4 linked regions of the Homo sapiens genome follow. The protein of the gene in region 4 interacts with the protein of the main gene of each other region in a pairwise test. Each region holds a gene or a part of one and is shown on either strand. Other genes may lie near its edges. The genes, in order: ZBTB14, KPNA3, MEOX1 and ZCCHC10.

Region 1 (6,741 bases), on a different chromosome or scaffold from region 4:
GCTGAGGGCCAATGATTGTAGAACTGAGAGATGCTTCTCAGCTTCTGTCTACTCCATTGGGAATGCTCTTTAGGAAGCGGGGAACATTTACAGTGAACCTAAAAAGTGTCGATGCTGGGGTTAATGTTTTTTCCTGGCCATCACATTAATCCTCAGCAGGCTGTGAGGCAGAAATACCAGTATTTTAGAGATGGTGAAACTCAGGCTGAAGGCAGTTAAGAACTTGTCTGAATTTGCAGTTACTGAGAGGCAAAACCAGGATCCAAATCTAAGTTTGTCTTGTAAAGTCTTTCCACTAAACCTCACCTCCTCGTTATACTGAAAAGATTTAAATGAGTATTGGTAGGTGGGAACATCTTTTGAAGAGATCATGAAAACACCCAACTGCTAAAATCTGTCACAATCCAGATAAATTACACCCAGGGCCCCTAAGATGAGATCAGTATGGCAACCTTTAAGGAATCATGGATAACAGGTGATGGAAAAACATTTTCAAAAAGAACATGTAAGACCAGACTGGGAAGGGGCACACTCACTCTAACAGCCAGGGACCAAACTGCTTCTGCCTTTGCATCTCCAGGGTCCAGCCCAGTGCCTCGCATATGATGCTCAACACAAGTAGGCAACATGCTATCTTTACATACCTTAAGTAGATGCAGGATTAACCCTATTATAAATAGTTCCCAGGGGGAAAGAGCTCCAGTTACAAGAGGGTAAGCAAAAATGGAGACAGACTTCAAAGGGAGTGAGAGCTTTCCGTTCTCTTTGCTGTAACAGTTCTCTGCCTCCGCCTAGGACTCAACCCTGCACCACAATCCTTACTATGTGCCAGCTCTACTACAATTGCACCCTAAGGCTTGCTAATCCTGAGAACAAAACACCACTAATAGCATTACTATGTGACAATGAATCCCACCTTCCAAATGACTTACAGATAACTACACAAAATAACCCATTAAGTTGGAAACTACATAAATTTGCATCATTTTCCCTCATCTTGTCTTTTTTTTCCTAACAAAATAGGGTGAATTTGTTAGTGTCAACCTCACTTGATGGCGACCTCTGTATTTTCTAACAATTCTAAATTAGTGATCAAGTTAATGGCCGGCAAATTACTTTACATTTAAACTTCCTAAATTTCTCTTCCTCAATCAGTGCCAATACAATGCAAATTAAGCACAAAAGCTAACATCAAGTTTGTAGCATTCTCTGTAAAAACAGAAAAAAGTCAATGATTTGTAAGTAATGAAAAGGTAGTAATGTTGACACTTAGCCTTGACCTTCCTCTTACATTACAGATTCAGAGTAACCACATTTCAGAATTAACTCCCTAGGGTGTTGGAGGTAACTTGAAGACTCTAACACGATGGCTCCACTATGCAGAGGACTACCAAATCCAGCCAGGTGTAGAGAGGCAGTGTTACTGACCAGGACCCAGCAGACAGGAGAGCTGCCATGATAGGATTCTGCTGCCACCAAAAATATATAAAGGAAACAGGTGCCCTAACACACGTGTAAACCCAGTACCAGTGGCAGAAATAACACAAATACATTTCTCATGCAAAATAGGCTAAATGATAAATATTTGCATCACATAGACTGCTGAAAATTAACCTTTCTTTTTGGGGGTTACCACCATGACTATGTGGTTTCAAAGGAGGTTAATATCACATGTTTAACTTCAACTCTGTAAAGCCAGGATGAAGCTAGCATACAAAATACATTTTGGTAGAAATCTAGGTATGTGGAAGGTTGCTATGAAAAAATGAAAAGAGGAATGATAGAAGTATATTTTCTTTTATATACAAAAAATGAAGTCCCAAAATATGGTTTGTTGAAGTAGCTATTGACAAGATGTTAAAATTATTTTTCCTTTGCTTTGGTTAAAACAGCCTAGGAACGGCAATCAGTTCCCCTTCTATAAGTAGCATAAAAACACAGTGACAGGACTACTTTTAGAACAGAATAAACAACTTTCAAGAAAAGAAATTAATTTTAAGTAAAATTAAACATTTTACCAATAACTAAAATTTTTAAAAAGGTAGCATCTTCATCCTAACATCTTGGGCATAACACACACCAATTAAAAAATCAAATTTCTTTCACAATAGAATTACAGGTGTTAATGCAACAAGCTATGAAGTGAAATTACTTTAATTTTTTTAAAAGAAATCCTAGCAATGAAAAATGAGTTTGAAAAATTGACATTTTCTACAATTCTACATTTTGAAAAATAATTGACTAATACTTTTTTACAGAACACAATTCAAACTATTGTTGGCATTTCAATATATTCCTAAAGATGGTTAAAAGAACATTTAGTATACCAAAACTGGAATAGAGTTTATAATTCTCATTTACGGCTATGAAAAGGCAATCAACTTCTATTTAAAACTGTAACCAGTGATGAAATATATTTCGAAAACATAAACATTTGGTCTGACAATCTTTAATATTTGTTAAAAACAGTCTGATGTTTGTTGCTGATGGAAGTTATTTTAATCCAATGTGCAAAAAAAGTGCAGCTGTCTACTTTTTACTTGAAATACGTAAGACCAACACTACTATTTACACACTTAAAAGATTTTAAATTTATTAATTTAAGTAAGCATACTGCATCTCCTTTATGGATAAATCATGTGCCCCACAGAGCCCCAAAGCTTGATGACATTCTGTAAAGTTACACAAATGTATCTGAAGAAGTTATCTGTTCTTGTCCTAATTTTGATTCTAAATAAAAATCCAATTTCAAAATCAATTAAGATTTTAATCTAGGAAATCTTGGGATTGTTACACATGTAAAAAACCTTATCTCTGAGAGCCTTTTCTATTCTTCTTACCACAGGTCCACTCACAAATCGCAGCTGGTATGGACTGGTACTGCCCCAAATAAGAGGAACCTAAGAGCTTGGCTCCAAGACCCCCCACCATCCCGGTGGGTTTGCTTGGCCTTTAGGATGTGTGACTACAGCTTTTGGGTAGGTACAGGGCAATCAAGATTGAGGAAGAACACTTCAGCAAAGCAACCATTATTTGTCCACAAAAACAGTGAAAAACAGTGATATAAAATTAACAAACCAAATATAAATCTAACGCCATTCTGCATTTCCAGAACTTTTTTTATATTTGTGCAGTGTTCTTGGTCAACCACTCACCAATTTTCTGCGTCTATCTGAAGTACTTTTAAAGTTATTAAAACTGCTCTTTTGACCATAAGTCACATAGAATTGTGATTAGGAAATCAATTTACTTATTACTCTGTGCAGGGCACTTGCTAGGGTGGTGAGTGTAAAGGAACTAAAAATGGAAGTCTCTCACTTCTAAACTGGACACAGGAGTTCTCAAATTAAAATAATAAAAAAAAAAAAGGGAGAGAGGTGCTTACTGGGCAACATTAATACTAGACACCAGACAAGACAGTGAAACGGTTTGGTCAGAACTGAGGAACACCATTTCCTTGAAAAGTCTTAAAAATAGCTAACCAAGCACTGCCTTAAGTCCAGTGAGTACAATGTTCCATACGTTTCCACAAAAATATTGTAACTGGCATTCACTCATTATGATCCACGTCATCTCAGTCTCCACTTTCCAGGCAAAGTGTCCCTGTCCCACCGCCTCTAGCTACAGGCTATCGTCTCCAGCTGCTGTTCTGCTTCCGCAGCCATCGCTGCCGCCTGCAACTGTTCTGTCTCGCTCTGGATGGCACTGGGGGTAACCTGCTTCCTTTCACTGTGCATATTGTTCTCGTGCCTTTTCAGATCAGATGCCTTGGCAAATGCCTTGGTGCAGGAGCCACACACAAAAGGCTTTTCCCCTCTGTGTCTTCTTTCATGATCCTTGAGGTGAGACTTGTGTTTGAAGGCTTTGTCACACATGTGGCACGCAAACGGTCTTTCATTACTGTGAACTCTCTCATGCTTCTTTAAGTCTGGGGCACGGATAAATGATTTTCCACACACCTCACAGCTATAGGGCTTATATCCTGTGTGGATTTTTAGGTGTTCTTTCAGGTGGGCCTGTGTGGTGAAACCTTTTGTGCACATTTCACAAACAAATGGCCTGTCCGCCGTGTGGAGTTTCTCATGCTTCCTCAATCTGCCTTCATCAGAAAACGTCTTCCCACACGCCTGGCAGGCAATCTGCTCCCGATGGTGACCATAAAGCAAATACTCAAACTTCATGTCACTGGCGGCTGTTGTCCAGCCTGGTGTCTGTTCATCTTTCACTTCACTCATCCCATCATTAAATGTTAAGGCTTGAGGGGTCTGGGACCCCAAGTCTTTTGATTCTGGGGTCTCCATGGATTCTACTTCCTGGCCGTAGCAATTGACCTTCCGAACTTCCTCACTCCCCAGCTCTTTCAGGATCGCTTCCTGAACCCTGAGCGTTGTGGTGGGCGACTTGCCGTCCTCCTGACTCGGGGGTGTGCCTTCTACTGTGTCATCAGAAGGACTGTCATCCTGATCCCCGATTTCCTCTACATCATCATCCTGGGTGTCAGCAGCATCTCCAATGGGGCGATTTATTTTAAGGCAATACTTACTTTTGGACTGACCATTGTTTTCATCGGGACTGGACACATCACGCTTCTGAGAACACAGTTTATCCAAAAATCGGATACCAAGAATCTGACCCGATGACATCATTAAGTTAACATCTTCTTTTTTCACGGAAATCTTTGCTGTGTACATGTAGTTCAGGACCTCTTCAAATATATCAGAACGAAGAAAATCTATTTCTATGACCGAAGAACTATCAACCTCAAGCTTCTTGAAAAGCTTTTTAAAGTAAGTGCTGCAGGCAGCAAGAACACATCTGTGTGCTCTGAATTTCACATCCTCAACCACAATAGCAATATCACAAAATTCTCCTTCCAGGCGTTGTTCATTTAGTGTTTTCAGAAACAGAGTTTTATGATCATCGTCATTATATTTAATGGTTTCAGACATACTGATGAAAAACTCCTACAAAAAAAAAAAAAGTTTAGTAATTATAAATAGTACTTTTCCATATAGAGAACACAGTCACATTTTCATTTCCTGGTCAATCTATGGAACCTAACAATTTCAGAAAGTCAATGTTAAGAGTGGTCTTTGAATATGGGTAGAAAAGACTGATCCCAACTCAAGGATCTCCATATTGTTACTCCTGTTCATCTTCAATTTACTAAGTATTTGCCTAGTTATATCCCAGGCATTGTTCTATGTGCTTTACATGTTTTAATTAATTTAATATTCAGGTAACCTCATGAGTACGTATCACTATCCTTATTTTAGAGACAAAGTTAGAAATCTGCCCAATATTCTATAGCTATTTAGTGAAGAGCTGGGACTTAAATGCAGACAATCTGGCTGCAAAACCAGTGCTTCCTGACTAGAGATAATCAAATAACTCAAACTCAAGTTTTAAGAAACAGGTTCAAGGGAACAATCCTCTAGTCCTCTCTGTTGCACCTACTCTTATTCCATCTACTCTATGGAGGATTCAGCAAAATAATTATGTTATACCTCCTTGACAGAAGGAACAAATTACTATTGCAGAACTAGAGAGGAACATTACTGCCAAAATATCCCATTGAGTGTTGTGTTCTAGATTTTCCACAGCACTTTTGGGCCACTTCTAAATGAAGGTCAAGGTTTAATCTGACCTTAAGAGAATGAGATGACATTTGGGAAGTGGCTTTGTTCTCTCTAGATGCCAATCTACCTGCATCCAGATAAAAGTGCCATCAACACCAGATGTAAGTACTTGATAAGTGCTGAGAGTATTTTATAAGCAAAAATTTGGAACTGGCATGAAAGATCTCTGTCATCATGTTAAAAAACTGGTCATCTTAAAGCATTCTCTATGTTTCCTTTTTAAAAACATTGTTTTACTTTTATTCGGCTAATATTTTCCCCCAGACAAATAGAAGTGTTCATGCACAATCAGAATTGGTATATATATTTTAAAGCAAATGCCAAGTCATTTTCATCAAGATTTAATATCCAAAGTTATAGTTACCATGAACAACTCAGGCTATTATCTTAATGCCTTGAACGCCAAAATCTTCAGATCAGAGTAACTCTGATCAGGAGCACGCCAGACCTACAGAGGAAAGGATAAACAAGAATGAGGTAGGATCTTCCTGTATCCCAAATCCTAAACCAAGAATTGATTTTTTAAAAATAAACTTTCTTGTTCCCTCTTTTGTGCATTTTCAGGTTGGGGAGAGTGGCAGGTAGGTAGCTGGTACATCAAGTGCAGTTCTGAACAGATATGGACTAGAACAGATAAGGGCTGTAGCACTCGGGCATAAAGGGGCTGTGCCCTAGGAACTGGAAGGAGGGGTTGGAGAACCATTAAGGGATTTCTCCTCACACACTAAGCTCATGTCCATATTTGTACAGAGATTGATGGCTACACAGATATAGAAAAAAACAAGTGCACCGTGCCCCCTACACCTATCCCATTTCCCGCTGGGTATGTTAGCCCTCTACATTTTTCTCTCGGCTCATACAAACCTATAGAAGTATATACCTTACAAATAAAGCTATAGAAGTACATAAACCCAACAGGTAACATGGGAGGAGAGGGAACAATGATTGCTTTTTCTTTCTGCACCTGTGTGATGTATTAATAGCATACACGTTTGTTTTTAAGATTGTATTTGATAAATCCAGGTGTTTTTACCTCTATCCCTACAATAAGGGTGAAAGAATTTCAGCTTTTTTGTGAGTTTTAACTCTTACCGGAAGAACT
Region 2 (9,536 bases), on a different chromosome or scaffold from region 4:
GATTAAGAGGTGTGTTTTATCCTGTCTTAAGGAAGGTTGTGGGGTAAATATACCATTCAGTGTTCTATTTTGTAGAGAAACAGACAAACTCAGGCCGTTTTTCAGAGCTACAAAATTAAATACTAGTAGGAAAGAACCTAGGGAGATATCCGTGGAATTCCCATTTAAATGAGTCAAATAAAGATCATATATTCTTTCCTGGTCATGGTTAAATACCCTTTGTAAGAAATACATCTAAGCGAAAGTAAAACTTGGGAATAGGAACAAGAAATTTTGGAACTGCCTCCTGTTATTGGTCCACTTGATGACAAGTGTTAATTTTGAACTTTTCCCATTAGGAATTTTTCTTGAAGCCTATCCTGTTCCAAATAAAAATTTATTGAAAAATACTCATTGTTTGTACAGAAAAACCAGTAACATTCTTCTCTCGGATATTGGTACAGGTTTTTGTTTCATTGTTTACCTCTATTGTGTTCTGGTAGCTCAGTGATACTTAGTAAGGACTCCTGCACATAATAGGTACACAACAAATATTTGCTGATAAGAATGTAACCCGTGACTTTTAGATGCATGAAAAAGAGCATGGTTGCTAAGCCATTCAGCCTGGTATTGGTCACAACATTACATTTCTCGGGATTCTATAGTGTAACTAAAACATGAAATAGACATTCAAATGGTAGTTCTAATGTGGCAGACACTGTTACGAGCTTCATGATACCTTATTTAATCTGTGTAACAAGTATATGAAGTGTGGCATTATCCCCACTTTACATGAGTAAAGTATTTTTTGAGACGGAGTCTTGCTCCTTTACCCAAGTTGGAGTGCTCAGGCACTCATAGCTCAGCTGCAAGCTCAAACTTCTAGGTTCAAGGAATCTTCCCACCATGGCCTCCCAAGTAGCTGGGACTACAGGCGGACACCACCACACCTGGCTAATTTTTTAATCTTTTTTAGAGACGGGGTCTCGCTTTGTTGCCCAAGCTTGTCTTGAACTCCTGGGCTCCAGTGATTCTCCCGCCTCGGCCTTCCAAAGTGTTCGAACTACAGATGCTAGTCGTCACACCCAGCTGGAACTTTAGATAAAAAACCTCAGTGTGCTTATGTAGCCTGTGCATGTCACTCAGTGGATATGGGTATTATTTATTCACTAATTGTCTATTGGGTATCTATCAATGTTAGGTCTTGGGGATAAGGAATAAGATGCAGTCTGTACTTCAGGGAGTTTACAGTCCAGTGGGGGTGATAATTACAATGCAGAACAACAATTGTTACAGTATAGTATTCCGAAAATGCATGCCAAAAAAACTACTTGGAGGTGAGCAGAAAGGGAAGATACTCTGGTTGATTTCTAATGGATGAATGGGAGTGAGCTGATTGTGAAGGATGAAAGAAAGGTGGCCAGGCAAAGGGCGGGAGAAGGCTGGTGGAAGAAAGGGGCATTCCAGACTAGAGGGAGCAGTAATTGAAGAGTCCTGAGAGAAATGTAGGAGAGAGAGAGACTAAAGGGTAAACTGGGGTCAAATCTGATGAAGGGCCTTTATTGGGGATTTAGGCATATCTAAGAGTAGATAACCATGCTTAGTCTTGTCCATTAGAAACAGTACAACTTAGCTCTGTAACTGAGTAGTTGTGGTTATCAGGCTGTTCCAAAACAGTGAGATGCACTTTGATAAGCTATGATGCCTATTTTTTCACATATAGGATAGACAAAAACTAAAACATGTTATAAATTATAGAAGCAGCTGATACACAAGATGTTAGGTGCAAGAATAAGATCCATACTTGTTAAAGAAAATAAAAGGATAGAGTTATGCCAGGGGATTTGAGTAGAGAGAGGGTTGAGGAAGAAAATTTCTTTGTCATTCAATCGAGAGAGACTTTAAGAGATCTTTGGAGAGGAAAAAAAAAATGAGGTTAGTGAATCTTATAGGAAATATGTACCAAACTTAAAAGGGGCATGTTAACTGGTGAATAAATATCCAGGTAAAAAAGAAGAGTGATTATATTAAAGAGAGGAGACTTCCAGGTGGCCTGTGTTGATGCAAGAATATCTTGTGGCAAAGAGTTGCTTGGAAGCTTTTTCTTAATAGGGAGATGTGAAGGAATTTATTCCAGAGCAAAGAGGAGATGTAACATGATTAGAGCAATGGAAAGGGTGACAGGGCAGTAATACCTAGAATTCATTTTGGAGAAATAGCGCTGTTGTCTGATCTGCAAAGAAGAGTTTTCCAAAAAATTGAGACTGGGAATGGCTACAACCTGGAATGAGGATTTGATGATGCTGTTCTTCCTCCCTCTTCCTCCTCCTTCAAATTCTCTTTATAAAGATCACTGAAGAGAAAGGGAGTAAAGGTTATTCTGAGGTTTATAAATGGAGGAAGGGAGGGAGTAATTATCATCACTGATAGAAATTTGGAGCTTGGGTAGGGGATGCATTTTGTAGCAAAAACTAGGAAGTACATATTGAAAGGGAAACATTTCCTTTTATTTGTTCTGGAATGTGCTTTTTTTTTTTAAAAAAAAAAAAAAAAAAAAAGAGGGTCTGGCTCTGTCGCCAAGGGTGGAGTGCAGTGGCCCAATCTCGGCTCACTATAACCTTCGCCTCCTCCCAGGCTCAAGCCGTCCTTCCATCTCAGCCTCTTGAGTAGCTGGGACTACAGGCACATGCCACCACACCTGGCTAATTTTTGTGTTTTTTGTAGAGACGGGGTTTTGCCATGTTGCCCAGGCTGGTTTCAAACTGCTAGCTCAAGTTATCCTCCTGCCTTGGCCTCTAAAAGTGTTGGGATTAGGGGCATGAGTCACCATGCCCGGTCCTGGAATGTGCATTTTAATGCTAGACCTTTTCATGTAAGGCATTGATTCTTAAAAACTTTTCCTGTTTTCAAAGATAACTTATAGAAAAGTGTGCAAAACAGAAATGTTCTGTTTAATGAATAATTACAAAACAAATGCTCAGGTAACTGCAATCCAGGTCAACTCATTTTCTTGCTGCTGTATACCTCAAGGGTGTGACATTTTCATTAGTAACAGTAATTAATTATTTTAAAAACCTTAACATTTATTGTTTACAGTATATCAGTGCTAAGTACTTTATATAGATTATCTATTTAATCTTCACAACAGTCCTATATCAAGTAAGTACTATTATTATCCCCATTTACTGCTGAGGCAACTTGAGGCCTACAACCCTTAAGTAAGTGGCCTTAAGTCTTCCATCGGGTGTTAAGTGGCAAAGCCTGGACTTACAATATATCAAAGCTTTATGCTAAGCGGCTGGGCGCAATGGCTAACGCCTGTAATCCCAGCACTTTGGGAGGCCGAGGCAGGTGGATCACCCGAGGTCAGGAGTTCGAGACCAGCCTGGCCAACATGGTGAAACCCCGTCTCTACTAAAAATACAAAAATTAGCCGGGCATGGTGGCGCGTGCCTGTAGTCCCAGCTACACGGGAGGCTGAGGCAGGAGAATGGCGTGAACCCGGGAGGCGGAGCTTGCAGTGAGTCAAGATCGCACCACTGCACTCCAGCCTGGGCGACAGAGCGAAACTCCGTCTCAAAAAAAAAAAAAAAATACAAAAATTAGCCGGTCCTGGTGGCTCATGCCTGTAATCCCAGCTACAAGGGAGGCTGAGGCGAGAGAATCACTTGAACCGGGGAGGCAGAGGTTACAATGAGCTGTGGTCATGCCACTGCACTCAAGTCTGGGCGACAGAGTGAAACTCTGTCTCAAAAACAAACAAATAAAGCTTGATGCTAAAGCTAGAACTCTTGCTTACTGTGCTGTACTCCACCGAAGGGAGTCTAAGACTTGACATGTACAAACCACGCCTGAAAGTTAGTGAATGGGGAAAATATTGAAGAAATATCGACTATATCACAGAAATTGCTATTTCTATACTTTAAAACCTTGCAAATTTTTGATGAACTTTACTATTAGATTTATTTGCCTTTTTATCTTTTTACTCTTGCAAAGTTTCCTTCTTATCAGCAAGGAGCCAGTTGGTTGGTTTTACCAAAAAATGATAATCCGTATCTTTGGGCTTAACACTTAAGCTTTATGCTTTAGTTTCTGATACCAGGGCTAATATATATTTTCTCACCTGCAAAATTCAGTTAGCTCTACCAGACTTGCTTCTGTCTCTGGAACCTCCAGTGCTAAGTGGCACTATCTGATTGTCCAAGTTTAAGATTCTATCCTTGACTCCCTTCTCTTCCCCTCCTTCACCCTTCTTTGTATTAGTTATCTGAAGAACCCTCATGTTTGTACCTGTTACCAACCTTACTTCCTCTGCCCCTAGTTTAGACCCTTATCTTTGTTGCCTGAACAAGTATAATAGTGTACCTAGCTCTTCTGTGTTCAGTATCTTCTCTCCCCAGTGTATCTTGTGGATTGATCTTTCTCATATCTTTCTGTGTTACTTTCCTGTTTATGATCCTTCCCATTGACTTCAGGATAAAAGTCCTTAGCATGCCACACATAGTTGTAAGACCTTACCTTTTTTACCTCACCTTGCACTTTTCCTTATATCTCCTTTGTGCCAGCTGTGATAAAGTACTGGAGATGCTTGAGTAACCAGTAGTTTCTTCTTCATGCCTTTGTATATGCTGTTCTGTGTGCCTTCTTTTGACTATCTGTTGAGTTGGGGTTCACTCTGGCAACCTATCTCTTCAGTGAGACTCCTTCATATATCTCTGGAACACCAAGATTACAATTCTGCCACACCATGTCATTCTAGTTAAAAACCAAAAACAAAAAAAAACTTTAAAAGTTCTCCATGAGCCTTTCCTGACTTACAGTATACTTGGTACTATCAGTCCCTATTCTTTTCCTCCTCTCTAGTGTTTTCCTAGGTGAATTTTCCTTCACCTATTTGGGATAAATTGCTGTGATGTACAACAAATTCTGTGTTTGTATAGCTATTAAAGTATTTGGGCTCTGTTGAGAAGCTCAGTGAGAATAGATACCTTGGATGTAACTTGAAACATGAAACTTAATGAGAAGAGAGACTAGATGATATACCTGAAAAAAGTCTACATTTGGGAATGAAAGGTTCAGTATTATTCTAAGACATTAATTTTCTTTTGGTGTTGACTCCATGGCATTGATACTGTTGCCTAGCCCTCCTTGAACAGCCTGTTCTCCTATAATGTATTTCTGTAACATGAACTCGCTCATACTTGAATGGTTAATAAAAAAATGTTAAGGCAAAGTTCATATTGGTTCATATGTGATTTTTAGTATCACATTAATGTTTAGCACTCTTAAATAACAACAGTTGAACATAAAGTACAGAAACAGTTGAACGGATCAAGCCCAGGAGTATGCATATTGGCCATGCACCCATGTTCTGCCTCTTGGCTCTGTTTAACCATATGCAGTGTCTAAAGGTGCTTAACGACCATCCATCCTGTGCATTTCCCTCTTCTTCCTAAGTTTGGAGAGTGTAAAGTGTTTCAGGAATCTATATGCCATATAGCAAACAAACTTTTTTTTTTTCATGAATTCACTAATGGGGCATATACTGCTTCCTGGTTCTCTTGGAGTACTCTTTTTCAGTCAGCTTTGGTAAGTCTTCTTCCTACCCTTTGAATGTAGTAGGCATGGCTTGGGATTCTGTCTACGATTCTTTTATCTGTAGACTGTTTTTCTTGCTCATATCAGCAACTCCCTTGGCTTTAATCATCATTTCAATGTGCGGGGACTTAAATTTCATAAAATCATCTGCTGGAAATTATTCACATGAGCATCTTTTTAGCTTCTCAAGCTCAAAGTGTTTAAAGCCATGTTCTGCCTTTGTTTTTTCTTTTTTCTGTTTATGGCATCATCACCCTCACTGTGACCTGAATTTGAAACTTGAGAGGCTTCTTGGACTTCTCCTCTTCCACATTCAGTCAGATGCCAGTTATGTAGCTCGAATCTCTGTGCTGTCTCTGGATTTTGGCCCTGCCTCTATATTCTGCTGCCTCCAGCCTACTTTAGGCCTTATTACCTGTCACCTTCCTGTTTAAAAACTATCTCCAAAGTGGTTTTCTTCCTTTAGTTTATGAGATTTTTCAGTGAGCCTGATGCCTGATTATTTCTCCAGATTCAGCCTTCCTCCCCCACCCCCTTAAGCCCTAGCAACACTGAACTTCTTATATGCTTATACATAATCTGGAATCCCGCCTGCCCCTCCTCGCCAGTGCTATTTCTATTCTCAGGGCCATCTTGCTGACTGGAATATCCTTCTCTGCCTCCTGTTGCCTGGCTAATTCCTACCACTTTTAAATACTCAACTCTGGGTAGGTACCATTCTTTGCTCCTGGAAGAAGTCTGAGTGTATCTTTCTCGTTGCAATTATGATAATGTATTTTAATTAGATTTTATTTTTCCTACTAGATTGTGAGCTTTTTGAGGGCACAGACTATGTATCTTCATTGCCTACCACTTAGTACAGTGGCTAGAACCAAGCAAGCACTAAAATATTCCTTGAATAAATACATCGTAGGCACCGCAGACACAATAATTTTTCCCATGTGTATTTTTGAACTGAAATGTTTACTCTTTTAGTGCCTTTTCCTACTGCTTCCCAAATCAACTCCAAGCTTTTTATTATGACAGGTAAAGTTCTGGGAGATTAAGGTATATACATAGTGAATGAATTAGTGATTAAGGCTAATTTGTATGGCTAAGTAACATTCTATTGTATGTATATACCACATTTTGTTTACCCATTCATCTATAGATGAATACTTGGATTGTTTCCAACTTTAGTCTGTTGTCTCCCAACCATTTAAAAATGCCACTAATTTGTTCGGGTCAGTTTTCTTTTATTAAATTGCACTATATGAAATTGCTTTTTTCCAGGTTTGTAACAACAGCCAAGTATTGGCAATTTCATATTTAGCCTAATAGACTGTCCTAATTACTGGGTTTGTCTGTTTCCTTCTGGTGGTGCTTAACTGGTTCCTCTTATTTGTTTTTTTACCACCCTTCAGATTTTTTGTAATCTGGAAGTTTTTTTAAAAAAAAATTTTTAAACATTATTTTTGAGACAGAATCTTGCTGTTACCTGGGCTGGAGTGCAGTGACACGATCATGGCTCAAGCGATCCTCCTGCCTCAGCGTCTTGAGTAGCTAGGACTACAGGTGCACACTACCATGTCCAGCTTATTTACTTTTTGTAGCGATGGGGTCTTGCTGTGTTGCCCAGGCTGGTCTTGAACTCCTGTCCTCAAGCAGTCCTCCCTCCTCAATCTCCCAAAATGCTGGGATTATAGCCATGAGCCACTGAGCCCAGTCTAAACTGGAAGTTTGATTTAAAGTCTTGATTAGCTTCAAGTTAAGCTTCTATTAATTTATTTAAACTTCAGTTGGTGGTAGTGTGTACCTTAGAATATATCTCAGTAATGATAATAAGAATGATCGTAGGGTTCAGGTGATAAAGAACAAATAGTTTAATGCCATCAATGTGAAAGTTACTTAACAGTTTGTGAAGTGAATTTTAGTTATTTGGGGGAAATGGGACATGAAATTGATGACATTTCAAGAAGTGGAAAAAAAAGTAACTTCTTGGTATCCAGTAAAGGAGTTACAAAGTGTATATCTAGAACTTCTAACTTCAGAGTCAGTAGGATTTTCTTTCTATGACTGACACCACTCCTCAGTTGACCTTTTGTTTAGTTAGCATACGGTTTGGCTGTACAGCTGGCCCTTTGTAACCTGTGGATTCGTAGGGCTGACTGTACTGTGCCATTTTATAGAAGAGATTTGAGCATCTGCAGATTTTAGTATCTTCGGGGGAGGGAGCATCTGGAGCCAACCCCCCCGAGGATACAGAGGGAGGACTGTATTCTCATTTTCAAGTGGAGGTGAAGGAATATTAAAAGTATAAGGAGGATGTAGCTATCCTTTCTTGCAGTTTTGCTGTTAAGAAAAATTTTCTTACAGCATAGCCAACATCAGCAGTTAAAATATGGTAAAATAAATCATGACTATATTTACTTGGAATTAATCATTCTTGGTTTTCTGGGTTAGGGAGGTTGTATACATACTAGATTTTACTTTATTTTGACACTTGCCTTAAATAGAATATAATTTAGTTGTTTTCTTGGTTCTTGAGAATCACCATTATGCATATGGATATTGGGTTTTGCTTTTACATAAGTGATGCCTTCAGGTTGTTAAATTAACAGAATTTTCTTCTTGATTTTTACGCTTGTGGAGTTTTTGCTCTTCTTAATTTTTTTGGCTTGTCCTTCCCTTGCTTTTGGTCTATCAGCTTTCTTTTGATACTGTCAGCATATTTACTTGTGGTAGCCCCTATGTTTCTTTTTATTTGATGCTTTACATATTCTAGTGACTTGGGAAACAGATTTATTAAACATTTATTTAGCTTTTTTTTTTTCTTTGAGACAGGGTCTTGCTCTGTCACCCAGGCTGGAGTACAGTGGCACAATCACGGCTCACTGCATCCTTAACTTCCCAGGCTCGAGTGATCCTCTCAAGTAGCTGGACAGGTGCACGCCACCACGCCCAGCTAATTTTTTTATTTTTTGTAGAGACAGGGTTTCGCCGTGTTGTCCAAGCTGGTCTCAAACTCTTAGGCTCAAGTGATTCACCTACCTCAGCCTCCCAAAGTGCTGGGATTACAGGCATGAGCCACCGCGCGCAGCCTATTTAGTATTTTCTACATGCTATGTAGACATCATTAGGTGCCAAAGATTATAAATATGAAAATATTCCCTGATCTAAGGAAGTTCAGTTTAGTGGGAGAGACTGATACTTAAGCATATGGCTAGTGTACAGTGTGGTAAGTTCTATGATACAGGTAGATAATTTGTAAAGTACTATAAGAGTATAGAAAAAGTGTGATTGTACCTGGGGAAATTAGTAAGGTTACACAGAAGGTCATACTTGAGGTAGGTCTTGAAGGATGAGTTTGCCAACTCAGAAAGAAAAATAGTATGAATAACAGTGACTGTGTCATGGAGTCTAAAGGCTTGGCATGTTTAAGCTGCAGCTGATATGAGGGGCATTGTATCCATTCCCCCTGCTTTTGGAAACAACCTTCTGATTTGGCCTTTGGAAGCTACTTTTCTGCCATTGGCTATCTTATGGTGGGATTTTTAATGTAGGTGCTCCTGCCTCTGATTAATTAATGTGCCTCACATTTTTCTGGCTAACACAAATTAGGCTAATTTGTCCCTGGCATTTAAATCTTGAGTGAGCTGATACTGAGACCTAATTGATTCATCTTGACAGAAGTACTGTGAAGGTAACCATCCGTTAATTCCTGCCGGCTAGATATGTGGGAGTTGCTTTCGTAGGCTTGATTCTTCAGCTTTGTCTTGGTTTTGTGAATTACTCTATACATTCTACCAATAAATTCACTCTTCCCTTTATTTCTTCTTAAATTTACCCAAGTCAGTTGCTGTTGTTTGCAACATAACTCTAAGGTGATCAACTGTCTTGGTTTGCCTGGAACTGAGGTAGTTCCCAGTATACAGGACTTTCAGTGTTCAAACAGAGAAAGTCCTGGACAAACCTTAACA
Region 3 (7,570 bases), on a different chromosome or scaffold from region 4:
AGAAGATTGGGAAACCAGTCCCCGACCGCGCCCGTCGTCTAAGCCCGGGTTTCCTGCCTCTCTCCGGGCCCGTGGGCCGGGCTGTGCTCCGGGAAGCCCGTCATCCGCTCGTGACCGACCCTCCCCGGCCCGCTGCCAGGAGGGGGCGCGGCGCTGGCGGCGGCCAAGGCCGGAGGGCTCCTCGGGGACCCCGGCCCGGGGCTGCGCGTCCTTCCCTGCTGCCCACGCTCCCGCTTCCGGAGGGGTCTGGACCTGCCTTCTCCGGCCTGGAGCCAGAGGCCGCCGGGCAGGCAGCCCGCGCCAGGAACTCGGCCCCCTGCCCTGCTCCCCGGGCGCGCCCCGCGGGCGGCCAACCCGGATCGGACGCGGACCCCCGGGCCAGGGTGCCACGACACCCCTGACCCGGGCACCGGGACTATCGGGCCCCTCCCCCGCCTTCTCGAGTTCCCGGAACGGTGGCACCCACTCCCCTTCCATCCCCCGGCGGAGGCCACGGACGCGCAGCGCGAGGTGGGCCAGGCGCCCAAATCACTTTACCGTGCGCCTCCTGCTAGAGAGTCGCCCAGCCCAAGGCAGTGGGGCGCGGAGGCGGAGGACGGGGAAACTGAAATACAAAGGGATTGAGTGGAAAGCAATAGAGGGGGGTGCTGGGAGGGGAACCAGCTAGGCTCAAAGCTCCAAAGTGGATCGCCGGGTTAATGTGGGGTTCCTGCCTCGCCACCCACTCCCAATGCGGCTGCTTAGCCGACTGCATAGGCGGCTTCTCTGCTTTACACTAGGGGGTCTGAATTCCCCAGCCCAGTCCCCCAGGTAGCTTAGACCCGGCCTCTGAAAACAGAAGATCCCTCCTTCCAACACTCCTCGCCGGCAAGGCAGAGATGGGTCTTTCAGGGAGCAGGACGTTGGGCCGCAGGTTTCGGTAAAGCACCTCACTCGGAGCCACAGCCTCCATGTCTATAAAATGAGGAAAATGGACCGGGCGCAGTGGCTCACGCCTGTAATCCCAGCACTTTGGGAGGCCAAGGCGGGCAGATCACGAGGTCAGGAGATCGAGATCATCCTGGCTATCACAGTGAAACGTCGTCTCTACTAAAAATACAAAAAAATTTGCCGGGCGTGGTGGCGGGCGCCTGTAGTCCCAGCTACTCGGGAGGCGGAGGCAGGAGAATGGTGTGAACCCGGGAGGCGGAGCTTGCAGTGAGCCGAGATCGCACCACTGCACTCTAGCCTTGGCGACAGAGCGAGACTCCATCTCAAAAAAAAAAAAAAAAAAAAAAAGATAATTAATGAAGCAAACGTCTTTTAAATGTTAGAGCCCCGGGCTCCTGCAGCCATTCCCTGGCCACGTGGCATGCATTGCGAGTTAATTGTGTAAGTGTGTGGTCTTCTTCCCACCTCCTCTCCACCCACCACCTCCATTCATTAAAGTGAAGGTAGAGCTGCCTCCCACCCGTCTGCTCAAGAGATAACCATTCAGCCCCTTTTATTTGTTCAGGACTTTACCGTTTGTAAGCCCTTCCTAAATTTTTTTTTCAAGACGTAGTCTTGCTCTGTCGCCCAGGCTGGAGTGCAATGGCGTGATCTCCGCTCACTGTAGCCTCCGCCTCCTGGGTTCAAGCGATTCTCCTGCCTCAGCCTCCCAAGTAGTTGGGATTACAGGGGCGTGCCACCGCGCCCAGCTAATTTTTTGTATTTTTAGTAGAGACGGGGGTTTCGCCATGTTGGCCAGGCTGGTCTCGAGCTCCTGACCTCGTGATCCGCCCGCCTTGGCCTCCCAAAGTGCTGGGATGAGCCACCGCGCCTGGCCCCTACATACTTTTCATTTGAACAGTATGTGTGTGTCAAATCGCCTGAATTTAATTCTTGTCTCCCACACCCCCTGGCTGAATAAACTTGGGCAATTTGCTTAACTTCTCTGTGTTCGTTTTCTGGTCCATAAAGTGATACTAATACTAGAACCACTTGGTTGGGCTATTGAGGAATAAGAGGCTAATATATGTCAGGTACAGCACCTGGCACAGAGTGTGTCCCCTGACCCTGTTGGCAGTTATGACTGAGCCCCGCTGAATCTAACATGCAGCCTGCTTCAGAGGGCTCCAGATGGCTTTCCAGACTTGGCCCTCTGGGGCAGATTCTGATTCCGTAGGTAGGTCTGGGGCAGGCCTGAGATCCTTCAGGTCTGAACAGCTCCCTGGTGCTACTGATGCTGCTGGCACCCAGGCACTCCTTTGAGTGGTGAGGTCTTAGAGCAGCGGACTTGACTGTGCACCAGACGCATCTGGAGGGTTTGTAAAAATAGATTGCTGAGTGCCATCCCCAGAGTTTCTGACTTAGTAGGTCTGGAATGAGGCTAGGATTTGCATTTGTAACAAGCTCTCAGGTAATGCTGATGCTGCTGATCTGGGGACCATAGTTTGAGGCTTTGTTTTAGAGCATCTCACCCCTCAAGCTTATGGCCACCAGTAATGTCATGCTGGGGGGTGGGCTGGGGAGTAGAGGTCATTAAACAGCCAAGAGTAGCTTCTTATGCTTTGGGAATAAAAGAAAGTTTGGGGTGGGGGGAGGGTGGGAGGCAGGTACCTGAGATTGGAAACCAAAAATAAAAAATCTTCCCAATTCTAATATGGGTAAGACACCAGAAGGAATAAAAAGGACAGTGTAGCTTTTTTCTCAGCATCCTGTAAAAATAAGGGAGACTGGTAAAGACTGCCTAGTTGCTCAAGGGCAAAAGAAAGGGAATGGAGTCTCCCTCAGCCCATGTCTTCCTGTTTGGGGTCCTCTCTCCCCAGACAACCAGGAGAACAGAGGGAAGCCGGAGGGCAGCAGCAAAGCCCGCAAGGAGAGGACGGCCTTCACCAAGGAGCAGCTGCGAGAGCTGGAGGCAGAGTTTGCCCATCATAACTACCTGACTCGGCTCCGCAGATATGAGATTGCGGTAAACCTGGACCTCTCTGAGCGCCAGGTGCGCCCCCGGTGGGCCCCTCCTCTTCTTTGCTCTCTCATCTCCCTCCCTTCCCTCCTTTCCCACCACCCCTCCCTGGACCTTCTCCTTTTTCTTCCTCCAGCCAGTCCAGCGGTTTTCAACTGTGGCCACACCTGAGAATAGCCTGGGGAGTTTTGGGTTTTTTTGTTTTTTGTTTTTTGAGACGGAGTCTCGTTCTGTCGCCCAGGCTGGAGTGCAGTGGCGCGATCTTACTGTAACCTCCACCTCCTGGGTTCAAGCAATTCTCCTGCCTTAGCCTCCCAAGTAGCTGGGCTACTGGCGTGCGCCACCACGCCCGGCTAATTTTTGTTTTTTTTTTTAGTAGAGGCGGGGTTTCACCATGTTGGCCAGGATGGTCTCAAACTCCTGACCTCAGGTGATCCGCCCGCCTCGGCCTCCCAAAGTGCTGGGATTACAGGCGTGAGCCACTGCGCCCGGCCCCTGGGGAGATTTTAATAGTGCTGATGTCTGGGCTCCACCCCTAGGGATGATTTTAATTGGCCTAGGATGGGATACAGGCCTCAGAATTTTTCAAAGGCCCCCTAGGTGATTCTCACATGCAGCTAGGTTGGGACCTACGGTCTGGCTATTCCCAAATTTGAGTATATGTTGGAATCCCCCAAGGCACTTGTTCAAAATGTGGATTCTGGAGGTCCGGAGAGAGATTTTACCATAATGAGTGGGCCTGAGAATCTGTATTTCTAGTACATTCTCCAGGTGATCTGGATATGCAGCTGGTTCCTGGGCACACTTTGAGAAAAACTTCCCTGGCCCTTTGTTTTGGACTTTCCCTTCAGCCACCCCACACCCCCACACCCATGCTCTGATACGGAATAATAGTAATAATAACCGTAATATTTGATAGCAGATTTCAGTTGACAGAGCACTCTGCCAGAGGGCTGGATATTGAATCAGAAGACTTAGATTCAAATCCTGCCTCTATCACTTTTCCTAGCCCTGGGACCTCTGGGTCTCCATCTGTAAAATGGGATCATAATCCTGCAGGTAATACTCAAGCTCAGATGAGAAAATGTGCTTACCAGAGCTATCTAAACCAAAAAGTGCTCTATAAATGTGCCTAAGGATAAGGCTGATGACCTCTGCTCCCAGACCCTTGGGGAATGGAGGTAGGGGGCAGGGGGACCTGGCACAGGCAGGGCAGGGCATGTGAAGGGGGTGGGGCCAATGCAGAGTGCTTTTAGAACATGTTCCCCCGTCTGGGGCTTTATCCGAAGCCACAAGACAGACCTCTGGGCAGATTGGTATGTCCTCTCTTCGGTCCTAGTTCCTGGGGCCTTTGAGGGAGTAGGGAGTGGTAAGTGATGGTTTCAAGCTGGGGTCCCTGGAGTTACACCCTGGCTAGCCTAAGCATTGACATGGGGAGGAGGTCACACCGGCCCTGGAGTGACCAGGCTCCTTTGCTTCCTCCCCCAGGTCAAAGTGTGGTTCCAGAACCGAAGGATGAAGTGGAAGCGTGTGAAGGGAGGTCAGCCCATCTCCCCCAATGGGCAGGACCCTGAGGATGGGGACTCCACAGCCTCTCCAAGTTCAGAGTGAGATTCTGCATGGAGGAAAAATGACTAAGGACTGAGCCCCCTACCCAACTACCCCCACCCCAATCCCACCTTCACCCTCTTCCTTCCCCAGCCAGGGCAGCCTCTCCACATCTTTCCCTGACTCTTGGATATGAAACTGCCCAGCATTCCTGGGAGTCTTAGGATTTTCTAGGAAGTTCTGTCCAGCCTCTTAGCAGCCTCTTCCCTAGGGCCTTTGCTCCCACACTCTCATGGAATCAGACAGAGATCCTACCGGGCCGGATGAATCTGGAAACAGCTTCAGAGATACTGCTTCTCAGCGTCTCTTGGCTGCCACCCATGCCTCCTCCTACCGCTGTTCTCCTAGGTCAGCCAGGCCTCCTCCTGGTCTGGACACCACCTGGCCTGGTGGGAGAGGAGCTTTGGAACCAGCTGGCGACTCGGAAAGTAAATGCTTCAAAAGGAAGGAAATGACAGAGACACACGCCCTTGCCCACCTTCCTCTGTAGGCTGCACATCTGAGGCTTTGGGGCCCCTTAGTTGTCCCGAAACCCCAAGAAAAATCAGAATGAGGAGAGTCAAGGACAGCAACTCAGCTGCTGCAAGCCAGAAACACATCCCTGTCTCCAAATTTGTTGGCTAAGTGGAGACACTTCTGAGAACTGACTAGAGAAGACAGAAAAATAGCCCGATGTAGGTTTCGGTGTCCCCATATAGGCCCGTCCACACAGGCTTGACTGGGTGGACAAGAATGAACCCATGACAGCACCTGCTGCTTCAAAATCAAAATCAATTTAGGGATACAGCAGGGGCTGTTGGGCTGTGCTCCAGAGAAAAGGAGCAGCTACTCCTTTTAAATCCACGATTTCTGGATTGAAAACCTGTCCAGATGCTGAGTTGTTGGGCTGAACAACTAGGAGCTGAAAACAACGTAGAGGCTGGAAAGTGTCCCCTGCATTCTGGAGGGGAGGGGAGATAATAAGGAGGGCTGCTGGGTGAGGGCCTGGAGATGTGGAACCCTGGAGTGGAAGGTTCTCCAGTGACAGTGTCCTGTGACTGCAAAAGGGGACAAGAAAATCCCTCTTCCTCCATGGGATGGATTTAAGCTCTTGCTGTGTGTTCTACAAATGCTGTTATTGTGGGAGGAAATGCTAGGTTTTTGTGTGTGGACTGCCCAGACCTCAGCCAGGTCTTCTGGAGATGACATTTGAGGACTGATGGCCAAAGAGCATGGGGGACTGAAGCCCTGGCTGCCTCAGCGCTCTGTCTCCCAACACCAGCTGGTGTTGCAGAGGGAGGTCAACGTGAGTTTGGATCTCTTGTACGCAGATGTAATCATTCACATGTAAAAATAACCCCACCTCCCCACCCCAAAAAGGGCAAGAGCTGTGGAAAATGATTGCCAAATGAGATGGCTGGTTAGAGCATGATTTTTTCTAAAGCATACTTCATATATTTTCTTAAGATTACATCAAGCTAATTGTGCGAGCTCAATTCACTTTGTAAGAAAACTCTCGGAGAAATAAAATCAATAAAAAGCAAAGTTCCCAGGCCTTTTTCTTTGCAGAGCGAACAACCACAGCTCTTGTGTGCAACCTTCTGATTGACCAGACAATGTCTAGAAGCAAGAGAAAAAGGGAAGAAATGATCTAGACAGAGCTGTCCCCCTTTAGTTTTTCAAAAGGTGGGTACAAAATATAATTGGTGCCAAAAAAAAATTTTTCTCCAATGCAAATGCATGGTCTTCATTTCTCATTGTAAAAGTTTAGCTTTCAGTTTCCCTAAACTATGACCTATCAAATAGTCAATGTTTTATAAACAAAAGATGAACTCTTTTGTTAATAAAGGAATCTTGACCACAAAGTAACCATCCCTAATGTTTAAATTCAAAGTTTGGAGATTTTATTTTTCAAGGTAGAAAAATGTATATTAATAGTAGTAAAAAATGACATAAGAAAAAATATCCCATATTTTGTCTTTTTTTTTTTTTTTTTTTTGAGACAGAGTTTCGCTCTTGTTGCCCAGGCTGGAGAGCAATGTCTTGGCTCACTGCAACCTCCACCTCTTGGGTTCTCCTGCCTCAGCCTCCTGAGTAGCTGGGATTACGGCCATGTGCCACCACGCCCAGCTAATTTTTGTATTTTTAGTAGAGATGGGGTTTCTCCATGTTGGCCAGGCTGGTCTCCAGCTCCTGACCTCAGGTGATCCACCCGCTTTGGCCTCCCAAAGAGCTGAGGTTACAGGCCTGAGCCACCACGCCTGGCCTCTATGTCTTTTTAACTAAAAAACAATTTGTCTCACCAAGATGTCAACAATGGACAAAACAGGACTGGCTACGGTGAGGGGAGAGAGGGAGGCAGGAGGGGAGACCTGGCCAGGATCTTGCAATGAGGCAGCCTGGGCCAGGTGTGGGCAGTGCCTGGAAGTGACATCACCAGGACCTGGAATCAGGCAGACCCACCAAAATGAAGGTGCCAAATGGAAGTGGGTTCAGTGGCTCAGGTTCAGGTTCACAGCCAAGCAACATGGACACGCTCAGTCACCCCCGTCCACCCTCCTGCTGGAAACTCAACTCTGTGGCTTCAGGGGACATCACCCTCTTCTGGCTTTCCTCATCTGTCCTAGATGTTCCTTCTCTGTCCCCCATGCAAGCCCCTTTCTCGATGCTTCTGCTCTCACAGCTGGTTCTCAAGGTTTTCTCTTTCTTCCGCCACCTTCCCTATTTTTCAATCTCTCCCCAGATGATCCCATCCACCTACTTTTTTTGTTTGTTTGTTTTTTGGGACAGTCTCGCTCTGTCGCCCAGGCTGGAGTGCAGTGGCGTGATCTTGGCTCACCACAAACTCTGCCTCCCGGGTTCAAGCGATTCTCCTGCCTCAGCCTCCTGAGTAGCTGGGATATGGCTAATTTTTGTATTTTTAGTAGAGATGGGGTTTCACCATGTTGGCCAGGTTGGTCTCAAACTCCTGACCTCAGGTGATCCTCCCGCCTCAGCCTCCCAAAGCGCTGGGATTACAGGCATGAGCCACCACGCCCGGCCTATGTTTTTTTA
Region 4 (8,601 bases):
GTGCCTGGCTAATTTTTGTATTTTCAGTAGAGATGGGGTTTCACCATGTTGGTCAGGCTGGTCTTGAACTCCTGACCTCATGATCTGCCTGCCTTGGCCTCCCAAAGTGCTGGGATTACAGGCGTGAGCCACTGTGCCCAGGGGTGCCTGGCTAATTTTTGTGTTTTTTGTAAAGATGCGGTTTCACCATGTTGGTCAGCCTCGAACTCCTGAGCTCAAGCAATCCGCCTGCTTTGGCCTCCCAAAATGCTGGGATAACAGCCGTTAGCCACCGCGCTCAGCCTGGAACCACCTTAATCAAGTGATCAAGGTCAACATTGCCAGTAATAAATAAGACACATGAACATTATGAATCTCATGATATGATTGAGGACATTCCATTTCCGTAATATTCTTCCAAAAAGCATAACCTCAGTTCAATCACAAGAAAATATCAGACAAATCCAAATTTTTTTTTAGACAGTCTGTCACCCATGAAGGAGTGCAATGGCACAATCTCGGCTCACTGCAACCTCCACCTCCCAGGTTCAAGCGATTCTCCTGCCTCAGCCTCCTGAGTAGCTGGGAGTACAGGCGTGCGCCACCACGCCTGGCTAATTTTTTTGTATTTTTAGTAGAGAGGGGGTTTTACCATGTCGGTCAGGCTGATCTTGAACCACTGACCTCAAATGATCCAGCCACCTCGGCCTCCCAAAGTGCTGGGATTACACGCGGGAGTCACCACGCCCGACCAAACAAACCCAGATTGAGGGGTATTAGACAAGATAATTCTTCAAAAGTGACAAGGGCATGAAAGACAAGGTAACACTGAAGTATTGAGACTGTAGTAAAGGTAGAACTAAAAGTATTTCTGGGTAGTATTCTGGAATATAAAAAGGATATTAGTGGGAAAATGAGCAAAATATGAATAAGGTTTTCAGTTTAATAGTATTTTACTATGCTATAATAGGATGTCTTTAAAAAATAGTATTTTACTAGATGTTAAATTTCTTGGTTCTGGCAATTGTGACATGGTTATGTAAGACGTTAACACTATGGGAAGCTAGATGAGGTTTATAAGGAAATTGTACTATTTTTGCAACTTTTCTATAAATCTACAGTTCAAAATTTAAAAAGAATAAATATGGCTAAGAATATGAAACACCCTCTCTGCACTTTTTCCACTTCCAGCGTTAACTTATGGCTAATGCTGTATTTTCATTCTAGGGTAAAATTGCTATATAAAGTCTATTAATATAAACAAAATGTGTGTGGAATGAAAACCTATGATCTAACGACTCCTTTTGATATGAATGTGGTTAAGTAACATACTCACTACATTTGCCAGGGACTCAACTTCCAGAGTCCTGCCTTTAGGCAGGACTAAAAATAAAACTCTCTAGAAGTTAGTCTCCACTTTGCCATTGATTCTGTTTTTTGTTTTTTCTCACTCTGTCACCCAGGCTGTAGTGCAGTGGCACACTCATGGCTCAGTGCAGCCTCAACCTCCTGGGCTCAATCTATTCTCTTGCCACAGCCTCCTGAGTAGCTGGGACTATAGGGGCACATCACCATGCCCAGCTAATTTTTTAATTTTTTGTAGAGACAGAGTCTTACTATGTTGTCTAGGCTGGTCTCATATTCCTGGACTCAAGTGATTCTCCCGTCTTGGCTTCCCAAAATGTTGGGATTACAGGCATGAGCCACTGTGACCAGCCTGATTCTGTCATTTTGAATGAAATGTGTGACTAGAAGAACTGAGTTCCTGCTCTCTGTACCTCTGCAGTCATACTTTTAACAGCCATAATAGTAAAACTTTAAAATTGGAATTTGTTCAAATGTCTTTACACCTCAAATGGAATAACTGACATTAAATAAAACACTAAAGAGATAACAGAAGTTTAAGCTTGTGAGCACAAATTGTGAGTTTTATTTAACTGCAAGTGATGCAACCTATGTAACACATTCTTTTCTCATCCGTGTTCTTTAACTGCTAATATTACCTTTACAGAGACAAACATTATAAAATGTGCCTGATTGGTAATTTATTAACTCTATCTGTCAAGTGATAATATTCTGTAGGCAGCCTTTGAAATGATGTTTTGAGAATTTATTTACAACCATTGAACACAGATGGTTTTGTAAAACTGACAATTACAGGCTCCTTAAACTCACAACATACATATATTTCAATATTTAAATAGCCTGTTTTCTTCAAAAGTAATTTTCTACTGCTTTTTCATAAAAATATAAAAAAGACAACATTTATAGTTTTAAAAACCTATATTTAACCCAAATCAAATTTTTTCTACAAATGATACCTCTTTCCAAAAAGTTAAAAAGACATCACAGAATACTGTGATGTTAAACCAAAGACTCATCACAATAACAGCATTTTACTTTTAAGAAATATTGTGCAGTATCTCCTTTTTAACCTTTCATGCTAGATTTCAACTATGTATATCCTATGTAAACACACCAGATTAATCCTAGTCATTCATATATATGCAGTAGACTGTCATATATGACCAGTTACCATACAAACTATAATACCATATTTTCAAAAATAGCAAAAAGCAATCTTTATGAAAGCTTAAAAAAAGCTTTTAATAAAAGGCGACCAACATTGCCCTAATTTTCAGTAAAAATTACCTCTTCTTCCTACCTTTCCCCCTGCTTTGAATGGTACCTTTTATTGCATGTTAATACACAAAGATATTTCTAGCACTTCTATTTAAGTTAGCCTCTTACATGGCTGCTTTCTTTTCTGATACACTGACTTTTAACAGAAGGCACCAAGATTAGACTCCTAAGAAGTTTCAATTTTTTTGTCCCTTTTTAGGTTCCTCTAGAATAATTTTCCTCAGAAAAGGATAACTTGAAAAACTTAAGGAACCAGAAGAAAATGAATGACGTAACACAGCAATTTGAAACTTACAGCATTCAAAAACTATAAATATATTAATAGGCTCCTTGAACATACCACTTAGGACAAAAAGTCAGATAACTTTCTGAACATAAATGTAAAAATAGAGCACATTTATTAATAGTAGGAAAACTCCTAAGCTTACAGTAACAACATATTAAATCTTACATAACATACAGCCAAAAGCATTAGAAATCCACTGCCAGATATCCTGACGCACCATCCTGAAAATATGTCTGATACATACCACTAACATATATAACAAAGTATGGCATTTATTTCACAGAGAGAAAAGATAGTTTCATCACACAAACAGATTTGCAGATTTCAGCTTTAAGTTCTAGAGATATATTTTAAAGATAAAAAAAACAAGATTCACCCTTCAAATAAAAGTCTCTCTCTATAAGCCATTATTAATATTCTCTATGCTCTTACAATGTAAAACATTTAGAAACTTTTGAATTCTAGAAATGTTCACCAGTTAACCTACTTGGCCTTAACATATTCTAAATTCCCTTTCAAGAATCACATCAATGTTTTCAGTCCATCAGTCCAATATGAATGGAGCAACTCTATTTCTTTTTCTTCTTCTTTGGTGGTTCATCGTCAGAGCTGCTATCTGTGCTGGTGCTACTGCTACTGGAAGAGCTGGAATCTGAGTCTGAATCAGAGGAGGAGGAAGAGGTTGTGGAGGAGGCTGAGGATGAGGAACTAGAGGAGCTTTCATCAGTGTCACTGTCCTCTGAGGAGGAAGAGGTAGATGTTTCTTCACTCTCTGATGAAGAATCACTGGCAGAACTGTCACTGCTACTGCTACTGGAACTGGTTACACTCTTAGACCTATTAGACAATACAGAGTTATATACATGGGAAGGTGACATGTAATAGAATGTTAAAAGCAATTTCATTTTTTTTTTCTTTTCGAGACAGAGTCTTGCTCTGTTGCCCAGTGTGGAGTGCAGTGGCACAATCTCAGCTCACTGCAACCTCTGCCTCCCAGGTTCAAGAAATTCTCTTGCCTCAGCCTTCCAAGTAGCCAGGATTACAGGTGCGCACACCGACGCCCAGATGATTTTTGTATTTTTAGTAGAGACGGGGTTTCATCATGTTCACCATGTTGGCCAGGCTGGTCTCGAACTCCTGACCTCATGATCTGCCCGCCTCAGCCTCCCAAAGTGCTAGGATTACAGGCGTGAGCCACCGCGCCCAGCCAAAAGCGATTTCATATGATTCCATATATATGCTTATATATTGAAGCTTTGCTAGCATGTTATCCTTAGGTTTGATATTTTGGAGATTGCCTGTTGTAAACCACAGTCCCTCTCTTTACAAGGCATTGTTACTTCAGCAACTTAATTCTCTTGGATGGAATTCAAGATAAGCATATCTACTATATTACATTTCAGAGGGAATAATGTCAGAATAAAGCTGCAGTATAACAATTGGGTCTATTTAAACCTCACGTAGCTTAGCTGGTGACTGTTTCATCATCTTTATTTTAACTACTTCAGACCAGATATGGCTGGCCAACAATTTCTTACCAGTCTATTAACACTTCCTATTCTAAGCCAAGAGAAGACAATTATTTATTGTTTCCACGTACAAGGACTCTAGAAAGTTGGAGTAAAAGGAGAAATGGAAGCAATGCATTTCCAGACAGGTTAAAAAAAGGAACTTATCAGAAAATAGGATGATTATTTAATTATAAATTGCAGTAAGAGGCTTCAGATCCAAATCTTATAGCTATTTTTTTTTGAGACAGAGTTTCGCTCTGTTGCCCAGGCTGGAGTGTAATGGCATGATCTTGGCTCATGGCAACCTCTGCCTCCCAGGTTCAAGCAATTCTCCTGCCTCAGCCTCTCAAGTAGCTGGGATTACAGGCATGTGCCACCACACCCAGCTAATTTTTCTATTTTTAGTAGAGACACGGTTTCACCATGTTGGACAGGCTGGTCTCCAACTCCTGACCTCAGGTGATCCACCCACCTTGGCCTCCCAAAGTGCTGGGATTATAGGCATGAGCCACTGCATCTGGCATAGCTATTGTTTTAAAATCACCTTTCCCATCCCGCCAATTAGTATTACATGTTATCTATAAAACACTGCTAAAACCACACATACCTTTTTTTCTTGGCCTTTCTTTCTACATTGGTTTCTCCAATGCTGATAAACACGAGGGGGAAAAAAGCTCCTGTTAATAGAGTGATTATACACAGCTCAGACAAGCCCTTCTACTATCCCCCAAATCATTTTACTCTGGAGAAAGATTCTGTGTTTTTATCACATACAGAGTACAGTATTTCTTATTATAAGCAAGTGGAAAGTCTGCCATTGTAGGCTGTATACGGTACATGCAGTCAACTTAACCAGCATTTAAGCAAGACAATGCATCTTAGCACGTGTATAAAAGTCAGGTAGGTTAGTAGTTAAGATGATTAAATTTTTTTAGTCTGGAACTTAGGCTGATATAGCTGTATCACTACCTCCTGAACAACAGAACAAAGCTAATAGCACAATAGCCCTAATTTGTAGTTTGAGTTCTCAGAATCATACAAATAGCCATTTCATAATTTTTCAAAAGCAGCCCTTTAATTTAAAATAACTATTTCTTTTTCTGCATGTCCCGTTATTTACTTTTTTTTTTTTTTTTTTGAGACAAAGTCTTGTTCTGCTGTCCAGGCTGGTGCAGTGGCGCGATCTTGGCTCACTGCAACCTCCGCCTCCTGGGTTCAAGGAATTCTTCTGCCTCAGCCTCCTGAGTAGCTGGGACTACAGGTGTGTGTCACCAAGCCCGGCTAATTTTTACATTTTTAGTAGAGACAGGGTTTTATCATACTGGCCAGGCTGGTCTCAAACTCCTGACCTCATGATCCGCCCACCTTGGCCTCCCAAAGTCCTGGGGATTACAGGTGTGAGCCACCCTGCCTGGCCGAGTTATTTACTCTTTAAAGACCAGAAATGTAATACTTCAAAACTATGCTCACTCACATTAGTTATAAAGTCTGGTAAATTTGAATGAAAGGGACAAATAGCTTGCTGCTATTATTCTGTCAAACAACATGCATACTAAATCAGGTTTTTAAATTACACAATTAGGCCAGGTGCGGTGGCTCACACCTGTAATCCCAGCAGTTTGGGAGGCCGAGGCAGGCAGATCATTTGAGGTCAGGAGTTCGAGACCAGCCTGGCCAACATGGTGAAACCCTGTCTCTACTAAAAAAAACACAAAAATTAGCCAGGCTTGGTGGTGCATGCCTGTACTCCCAGCTACCCAGGAGACTGAGGCAGGAGAATCTCTTGAACCTGGGAGGCAGAGGTTGCAGTGAGCTGAGATCGCACCATTGCACTCCAGTTTGGGCGACAGAGCAAGACTCTGTCTCAAAATAAAAACAACAACAACAACAACAACAAGAAAAAAACAATTAATTCTATCACCACTGTCCTGTAAATTTAACTTTTTTTTTTCTTTTTGAGATAGGGTCTCACTGTTACCCAGGCTGGAGTGCAGTGGCATGATCTTGGCTTACCGCAACCTCTGCCTCCCAGCCTCAAGCAATCCTCCCACCTCAACCTCTGGAGTAGCTGGGACTACAACACGCACCACCATGCCTAACTTTTGTATTTTTTGTAGAGACGGGGTTTGACCATGTTGCCCAGCCTGGTCCTGAACTCCTAAGCTCAAGCAATCTGCTCACCTCAGCTTCCCAAAGTGTTGGGATTACAAGTGTGAGCCACCACACATGGCCAATGTTTTTATATCCTGGCCTTCTCTATATTTCCTAGATAATGCTTCCATCATTGTTTCCTGAGTCTCCAAACATAAACATGTATTTATGTAAAGTTTTTTACACAATGGAATTACTTACTGAATTGTCATTTTGGGCATAAAATAAGAGGGTGAAGTATACTTATTAAATTATAACTGAATCAAAATTCAGCAATCTTTTTTTTTTTTTTTTTTTTTTTTTTTGAGATGGAGTCTCCCTCTGTCGCCCAGGCAGGAGTGCAGTGCTGGATCTCGGCTCACTGCAAGCTCCACCTCCCGGGTTCATGCCATTTCCTGCCTCAGCCTCCCGAGTAGCTGGGACTACAGGTGCCCGCCACTATGTCTGGCTAATTTTTTTGTATTTTTAGTAGAGACAGGGTTTCACCATGTTAGCCAGGATGGTCTCGATCTCCTGATCTTGTGATCCACCCGCCTCAGCCTCCCAAAATGCTGGGATTGCAGGTGTGAGCCAAGGTTCCTGGCCAGCAATCTTTTTTAACAGAGCCAGATTCATGTAATTATATATATTTTTAGACCAAAATACTTGTGAGATACAATTAGAAAAACAAAAGTAAATGTCAAAATAAAATTTTATTTATGTATTTATTTTTTGTAGAGGTGAGACTTGCTATGTTGCCCAGGCTGGTCTCAAACTCCTGTCCTCAAGTGATCCTCCCACCTTAGCTTCCCAAAGTGCTAGGATTATAGGTGTGCGCCTAAACTAGAATGAAAATTTTCATAACCCGTATTTCATTCTTTAGGACAGGGGTCTTCAAACATTTTTTTGCTTACATTCCTAATAAAATAATTTCTGGAAAACTCATACTTGCAATTCTAAGTTTTAATATTTGCAAAGGGCATATTATATACATATTATAAAAAGTTCTACAATAATTTAATACCTATTATTCACATAAGAACATATGAACATTTTTAACAGCTGATACTTTTTCTTTTTTTTGAGGTGGAGGCTCGTTCTGTCGCCCAGGTGGGAGTGCTGTTGCATGATCTTGGCTTACTTCAACCTCTGCCTCCTGGGTTCAAGCAATTTTCCTGTCTCAGCCTCCTGAGTAGCTGGGATTACAGGTGCCCGCCACCATGCCTGGCTAATTTTTGTACTTTTAGTAGAGATGGCGTTTCACCATGTTGGTCAGGCTGGTCTCGAACTCTTGACCTCAGGCGATCCACCCACTTCGGCCTCCCAAAGTGTTGGGATTACAGGTGTGAGCCACCACGCCCGGCCTTTTTTTAAGAAACAGGGTCTTGGCAGATACTACTTAGCCCAGGGCCTGGTGGCTAGGCTGGTTGTCTCCTTTCCAGTTGGAGGCTTCTGCTGCAAACATTCTCCGCCAGATCATGGGTCAGGCCAAGAAGCATGCGAAGTTGATCCCCCTTTTTGTATTTATTGGAACTGGAGGTATTGGAGCAGCACTGTTTCTCTCGCCTCTGACATTGTTCAATCCAGATGTTTGTTGGGACAGAAAGACTAACCCAGAGCCCTGAACAAACTGGGTCCCAATGATCAATACAAGTTCTACTCAGTGAATGTGGATTACAGCAAATTGAAGAAAGAAGGTTCAGATTTCTAAATGAAATGTTTTACTATAAAGCTCCTTTAGAATGAAGGTCTTCCAGAAGCCATCCGCACAATTTTCCACTTAACAGGAAATATTTCTCCTCTAAATGCATGAAATCATGTTGAGGTAATCTACTGGAGATTACACTGATTAATAAATAACTGAAAGTTGAAAAAAAACCCAAAAAACCCAGCATCTTGCTATGTTGCCTAGGCTGTTCTTAGACTTCTGGCCCCAAGTGATCCTCTTGTCTTGGCCTCCCAAAGTGCTGGGATTACAGGCATGAGCCACAGCATTTGGCTGATAGTATAAATTTTAATAACTATTACATTAAAACAAACTTATTGGTAATG

Evidence for each region.
Region 1: the proteins of ZCCHC10 (region 4) and ZBTB14 interact in binary tests that used the Homo sapiens proteins (3 or more experiments, as listed by UniProt).
Region 2: the proteins of ZCCHC10 (region 4) and KPNA3 interact in binary tests that used the Homo sapiens proteins (3 or more experiments, as listed by UniProt).
Region 3: the proteins of ZCCHC10 (region 4) and MEOX1 interact in binary tests that used the Homo sapiens proteins (3 or more experiments, as listed by UniProt).

The regions. Positions count from the first base shown.
Region 1 is NC_000018.10:5,287,241-5,293,981, forward strand, and holds the end of ZBTB14 (zinc finger and BTB domain-containing protein 14), read right to left. Parts: 5' UTR 6,732-6,741; intron 6,088-6,731; 5' UTR 6,007-6,087; coding exon 6,004-6,006; intron 4,965-6,003; coding exon 3,618-4,964; 3' UTR 1,782-3,617; downstream 1-1,781. UniProt on the Homo sapiens protein: Transcriptional activator of the dopamine transporter (DAT), binding it's promoter at the consensus sequence 5'-CCTGCACAGTTCACGGA-3'. Binds to 5'-d(GCC)(n)-3' trinucleotide repeats in promoter regions and acts as a repressor of the FMR1 gene.
Region 2 is NC_000013.11:49,781,719-49,791,254, reverse strand, and holds part of KPNA3 (importin subunit alpha-4), read left to right. Parts: intron 1-9,536. UniProt on the Homo sapiens protein: Functions in nuclear protein import as an adapter protein for nuclear receptor KPNB1. Binds specifically and directly to substrates containing either a simple or bipartite NLS motif.
Region 3 is NC_000017.11:43,638,880-43,646,449, reverse strand, and holds the end of MEOX1 (homeobox protein MOX-1), read left to right. Parts: intron 1-2,789; coding exon 2,790-2,962; coding exon of another isoform or gene 2,963-2,973; intron 2,974-4,417; coding exon 4,418-4,540; 3' UTR 4,541-6,061; downstream 6,062-7,570. UniProt on the Homo sapiens protein: Mesodermal transcription factor that plays a key role in somitogenesis and is specifically required for sclerotome development. Required for maintenance of the sclerotome polarity and formation of the cranio-cervical joints.
Region 4 is NC_000005.10:132,995,106-133,003,706, forward strand, and holds the end of ZCCHC10 (zinc finger CCHC domain-containing protein 10), read right to left. Parts: intron 8,261-8,601; exon of another isoform or gene 7,992-8,260; intron 5,315-7,991; exon of another isoform or gene 5,291-5,314; intron 5,097-5,290; coding exon of another isoform or gene 5,069-5,096; coding exon 5,027-5,068; intron 3,746-5,026; coding exon 3,478-3,745; 3' UTR 1,880-3,477; downstream 1-1,879.